Linked DNA regions of Homo sapiens: region 2 is linked to region 1. The links come from fine-mapping of genetic effects on gene expression. A gene starts in region 1. The other region holds a variant in brackets. All regions are shown on one strand. Distances are between the middles of the regions.

Region 1 (2,896 bases):
AGAAAGGAGATAGGTACACAGGCCCCCAGCCCTCTCCTGCAACAGGAAACCAGTATAGACCCAGAGGACACAGTAGAGAGGAACCCACGGACATATACACATAGAGAGGTTCAGGTGCACACACCGAGAAAGTGCAGGCAGGTAGACAGCAAGAAGATAACTGCCCACAGAGAGGACGGGCACTGTCGCAAAAGGGACAGGTGAACACGCACAGAGGGATCTGGCTTGGTTACCCCCAGGGGCTCAGGTGGGCAGGGTGGGTCAGGAAGGCTTACCTCTCTGTTATTCCTCTCCAAAAATGCTACGGCTGTTGGGCTGACCATATGGTCCTTCATTTCCTGGAGGTAAGGACAGCATTAGGGAGGAAAGACACTCAGGCTGGGCGCGGTGGCTCACGCCTGTAATCCTAGCACTTTGAGAGACCAAGCCGGGTGGATCACCTGAGGTCAGGAGTTCGAGACCAGCCTGATCAACATGGTGAAACCCCGTCTCTACTAAAAACACAAAACTTAGCCGGGTATCGTGGCAGGCACCTGTAGTCCCAGCTACTCAGGAGACTGAGACACAAGAATCGCTTGAGCCTGGGAGGCGGAGGTTGCAGTGAGCCGAGATTGCAACACTGTACTCCAGCCTGGGCGACAGAGCGAGGCTCTGTCTCAAAAAAAAAAAAAAAAAAGAAAGAAAGAAAGAAAAAAAAACACACTCAAACCTTCCCCCACTCCCCGCCTGCAGGACCTTTCCTGACCTGGACTGCCTCTCGCATCCGCTCCACGAACACCTTTCTCTCCTGCAGGTCCCCGGCTGGGAGCTTGAACTTGCCTGGGTTGGCTTCCACTATACGTGGGCTGAGAGTCAAGGGTCAAGGCCGGAGCCAGATATCATCCCCGTCCCTAGGGGTCCAGCCCTACCCGAAGGTGGGCTGCCACCGCAATGGGCTCTCCCATGCCACCCTCTGCCACAAAGCCCCAGGATATCGATGGTCTCTTCCAGGTCCTCGAGGTCCCACTCGATGCTGCGCAGGCCATTCCGCAGCTCATTGGTCGTCCAGTCCAGCTCCTCGCGTCCGACCGCCGCGCTTTCCTGCAGGAGCTCGCACCAGCGCTGGTACAGCCCGCGGGCCGTGTTCACCGCCTTCTGCACCTCGCTGCGGGCAGGGGCACGGCGGGCGCGGCTGGGGGCAGGCGGTCCTCCCGCCTGCCTCTGCCCCCGACTGCAAACCCAAACGCATGGGGGACTCCGGAGACCCCTATATACCCCTGCGTGCGCCTCCCACTCTGCACCCCGACGGCCTTGCCCAGCCCGCCGGGCACGCTGGGGCCGGCACCCGGGCACTGGCTGGCTTGGGTACAGAGCACCCTCCGCCCTCCCCCGTCGTTGTCACTCACCCTCGGACTACAAAAAAGGGGTCTTCGAGAGACATGTCAGTCCCTTCCCCCCCAGGCCGAACCCCCCTCCCGGCCTGGGTTCGCGGGCTGGTTCCCTCCCAACCGAGGAGAACGCGCCGCCACCCCCGCCCCCGTCACGCCACCATCGAGAGCCGGACCGCCAGGGGAGAAAGAGAAGCCTCGGAGGCCCGACGTGCGGACACTTCCGCCCTCTCCTCAGCCATCTTGGTTGTGGGCAGAGGCAGCTTCCGGTGCACATGCCCCCGCCCCTTAGCCCTCTCGTGCCGCACCGTAGGGGGCGGTGTCGGAGTTCTGTCTGGGCCTATTCGGGTCCGAGTTCGGAATTTCGGTTCAAGGCCCAGTTCCTCGGATTGTTCCTGCGCAACTTCAGTTTCCCTTCCAGGCACGGGCAATGTAAATAATGATAGCCTCCCTCATCTCTGGCGGCTGGGTATTATGGCTGGGGAAGGGGCTCATTCGATTCGTTGAAGCTTTTCATGGACTCCCTGAGCTGGCACCTGGGAGATCGTCCCATCCCAGGGTCCCGAGTGTCAGGTTTGGCTAGGGTCTGGGGGAGAGGTGGTCCTCCCTTCTCCCTGCGGGGGCGCGGTGAGGAGCGGGCCTGCTCCTCCGGGGAGTTCTGCCGCATTCTCCCAATCTCTTTCCTGAGAAGTGGCGGAGTTGGGGGCACTTCGAGGTCGCCTTGGGGCGAGGTGGTCGTGAGGGGGTCCCAGATATGCCAGCAGCGGGGGGAGGTCACCTTTGAGAAAGTGCGTGGAGGTGGGTTTCTTCAGAAGCGCGGAGTCTTTCTGGGTGCGAGCCTGGGGGTAGCGGGTGGTGGCTTTGAGGATGGTCTCCAGGGGGGCCCTCTGTGTGTGGGGTCTCCGTCTGGGTAGGGGCCAGGAATATCAGCGGAGGGACTCAGGGTCGTCCCTATGTGTGACAGTGGCGCTGTGTGTTGGGGAGCTTCGGGAAAGCACTTTTTTTGAGTGATAGGGGGCCTGGTCTCCCCTGGAGGGTGGGCGGGTTATCTGAGGGAGTCCTCGGAGGGTCGCCCCCTTGCGCGTCAGAGTTGCTGCGTGGGGTCTCAGAGATAGCGCCTGGGCTGGGGAAATCATTGTGGGGTCTCCGTGGTAAGGTTAGCGGGGTGGGGACGGCCTGCGTCTTCGGCAGGTCGTCGCAGTCTGGCACCATCGTTGAATGGGGACGAGTTTGGGAAGGGTATTTTAGGGGGGAATAACTTTTGAGTTCCCAGCGTGCGGGGGAAGGGCGGGACGGGAGGGTGTCCCAAGGCCTGAGAAGATCAGTGTGGGGCAGGGGTCAGGAATAACCTGGGAGGGGGCCTTGTATGGGGGAAATAATTGGGAAGAGGAGAGATGGGATGAAGGGGGCCTCAGCGGGTCGTCTCCTGTGTATGCAGGGTCGTTCTGCAGCGTCTCTGGGAGATGGCGTCCCTGGGAGCCCTCAGGTCGCCCCTACCCGCTGCGGGGTGCTTTCCTGGCGTCACGCCT
Region 2 (2,896 bases), 27 kb before region 1:
CCCTTGGCCTGCATCTAGGGTATTTAAAAAATCTGGCCTCCTGGCCGGGCAGCAGGGAGCCCCAGCAGGTTCTTGAGCTGGGCTTTGAGGAGATGTGAGTTTTGGTCAGCCTTACAGGGTCTATTGAAGGAGTCTGCCTGGAGGCCCGGGGGTTTGGAGAGAGTTTGGGGTTGGCCCAACATTGTCTGACCCTAGATTTCATCAGTGTCATTGCCAGAGCCTGTGTGGAGAGAGGGATCCCATCAGGCTTGGTGGGGCATATTGCTTTTGGGATGGTGGTGAGCCACCGGGGCTGGAAAACATGAGTCAGTGTTCATGCCACTCTGCGTCCTCAGATCCTCCGTGCCCCTCGTTTCTCCTCCTAGGTTGCTCTCAGCACTTGTACACACTCGAACTCATTTAAGCCCGTGGCTAGCAGGTCCTGCCTGTTATCATCATTTGACACACAAGGCAACTGAGGCACCCTAGTCCTTCCTTCACACAAGCTGCAAAGTGGTCTGGCTACCACCCCTGTGCCGCCTTCCAGCCACTTTCATGTTCCTCGTGTCTGCATTTGCTCCTCAGTCCTCTCAGCCGCTACTGCCTTCCCCTAGAGAACCCTCTGGGCCGCATGAGGTGGGGCCGGGAGGTGGGACTGGGCCTGCTTGCACATTAGGTGGGGTGAGGACCAGCCGAGCCGGCAGAGGTGACGTGTCTTAGGTTGTGATCTGTGTGTGGTTGTGGTCATGTCCCTCCAGCCTTCTCATGTGCTGCCTCCTTGGCGAAGGTCTCAGTTCTTAGAGACCTGTGCGTCTTCTCTGAGGGCTTTGACTGTGTCCAGTTCGTGGTTTCTAAATCGAGCAAAGGGAGAGGGTAGGTAAGGGTGAGCAGACACGGTCTAGTAGAGAGTGAAATTTCACACTTAGCACCACCCCTGTCTCAGCCATGAGACTCTGGGCAAAGGTCTTTACCTCTGAGCCTCAGTGTCCTCCTCTGATAAGGAGTGACAAGTGGGCACAACTATACTGCTGTGATTCGCAACTGGGTACAGTCCTACCTCCGGGGACACTTGGGGAATGTCTGGGGACATTTTTGGTTGCCCCTGCCGGGGGGGGGGGGGTGTGCTGCTGGCATCTAGTGGGTTTATAGGCCAGGGATGCGGTTCAACATCAGACAGTGTGTAGGGCAGCCCCCACCACAAAGAATGATTGACGCAAATGCAGTGGCTGGGTGGGGAATCTCCACTGTCTGGTTATCATGAGGTTTGCGGGAGAGGTTGGCGTCTGGGGTGTGAGTGGACAGTGCTGTGAAGGCTCTGGGGAAAACCCCAGCGATCACTGCCTGTTAATCCCATGAAATGTGCGAGGTCTGGGAGATGGTGAGAGGCATAAGATGTCTTCTACTCCCAGGGAGTTTGCGGCCCAGCACGGGGCCAGGGGATACGACTAACAGCAGCTGGCATTCATGAGCACCGACTACGGGGCGAGCGCCGATCGGCCTGTGTTCTTTGGTTGTTTAATCCTTGAAATAGCCTTGTGAGGTGGCTGCTGCTGTCAGCCCATTTTCTAGATGGGAGACTGAT[A/G]TGGGGGGTGAGCAGTATTGAGGGTAATTCTGAGTGACAAGCTCTATAAGGGATTTGAGCCTAGTACAATAGTAGGATTCAAAATCTTAGGTCCTGCGTGGTTCCCTAGCACAGCCCAGCAGGCCCCTCTCCCAGGATGATCCCCATCCCTCCACCCTCCTTTGTGTTAGCGGCACCAGGGTCACCTCAGGGCCTTTGCACTTACTGTTGTTCCCTCCACCCTTGGTTGCCGCCACTGCTGCCCTGTCTTTTGGGTATGATCTGATTACACGCAGGGAGTGGGATGTAACTCCGAAGGGTGGGCTTATGGTTGGAGTTGGTGGGGAGGGAGCGGGCAGGCTGCGAGCTCCATGAGGACGGAGGCAGAGCTTCTGCCAGGCTCTCCAAGGAGCTGGAGCTGCTGCCTGCAAAGGGAGGCCAGATTGCCGAGGGCTGCGAGGAGGAGCGAGTGGGAGGAGGGAGAGGCAGCACGCGGAGACTGCTCATTCCCGGAGATGGTGGTTGCAGGGAGAAGGGGCTAGAGAATAGCTGCAGTTGGGAGGATTGGGAAAGGAAGAATGAAAAGAATGAAGAAGGCCTTCCTTGGGGATTAGAGAGAGGGCACCCCAGACCCTGAGGTGGAGGTCCTCAGACAGGCAGAAGACCCTGTTTCTGGAGAGGACACATCCAGTAGCTCAGGTAAAGAGCCCCAGCTCTGGGCTCGGCCGGTCCGGGGTTCCCGTCTGGTCTCTGCCTTGCTTCTCTGAACACCAGTTTTCCCACCTGTGAAATGGGTCTAGTCACAGCTGCCTCACATTTTTGCCTGATTCGGGAGCCAGACGGCCTGGGTATAAACCTGTGCCTGCCATTCACCAGCTACATGTTCCCCACCTCTGGCTTCACCTCTCTGGGCCTCATTCCCATCCATGAAATGGCAGGCAGGCTCATTTCTTCCTCAGAAACTGTAAAGAAGAGTAAGTTAAATGAGCCTGTCTGAGCCCTGGCCAGGTATGGGCCCAGTCAGTGAGGCTTGAGTAGGGGACACTGTTACTAATCCTATTCCACCATGGATTTAACAATAGTCATTCAGGGAAAGAGATAACGAATTAAATCTGTGGGTGTATAAGAAAAAAAATACAGGCCAGGTGCAGTGGCTCACGCCTGTAATCCCAGCTCTTTGGGAGGCTGAGGTGGGCGGATCACTTGAGGCCAGGAGTTTTGAGACCAGCCTGGCCAACATGGAGAAACCCAGTCTCTACTAAAAATACAAAAATTAGCCAGGCATGGTGGTGTGTGCCTGTAATCCTAGCTACTCAGGAGGCGGAGGCACGAGAATTGCTTGAACCCAGGAGGCGG

What was found.
Region 2: its variant is fine-mapped to the expression of STX10 in whole blood (INTERVAL, PIP above 0.99). The same link has a PIP of 0.9 or more in blood mononuclear cells.

The regions. Positions count from the first base shown.
Region 1 is chr19:13,148,754-13,151,649 of GRCh38, forward strand. It overlaps STX10 (syntaxin 10), which reads right to left and starts at 1,622. Exons shown (of 8, transcript NM_003765.3): 1 at 1,386-1,622; 2 at 975-1,144; 3 at 746-840; 4 at 276-338. The coding sequence starts at 1,420. IER2 (immediate early response 2) reads left to right here and starts at 1,658. Exons shown (of 2, transcript NM_004907.3): 1 at 1,658-1,799. RefSeq lists silencers at 1,133-1,182, 1,223-1,382 and enhancers at 1,503-1,702, 1,723-1,792.
Region 2 is chr19:13,121,438-13,124,333 of GRCh38, forward strand. All of the region lies in intron 1 of NACC1 (nucleus accumbens associated 1), which reads left to right. Among named protein-coding and RNA genes, the nearest start is that of NACC1, 4.6 kb to the left of the region's middle. RefSeq lists a silencer at 838-907 and enhancers at 1,278-1,327, 1,891-2,550. The variant A/G (reference allele first, on the strand shown) is at 1,562.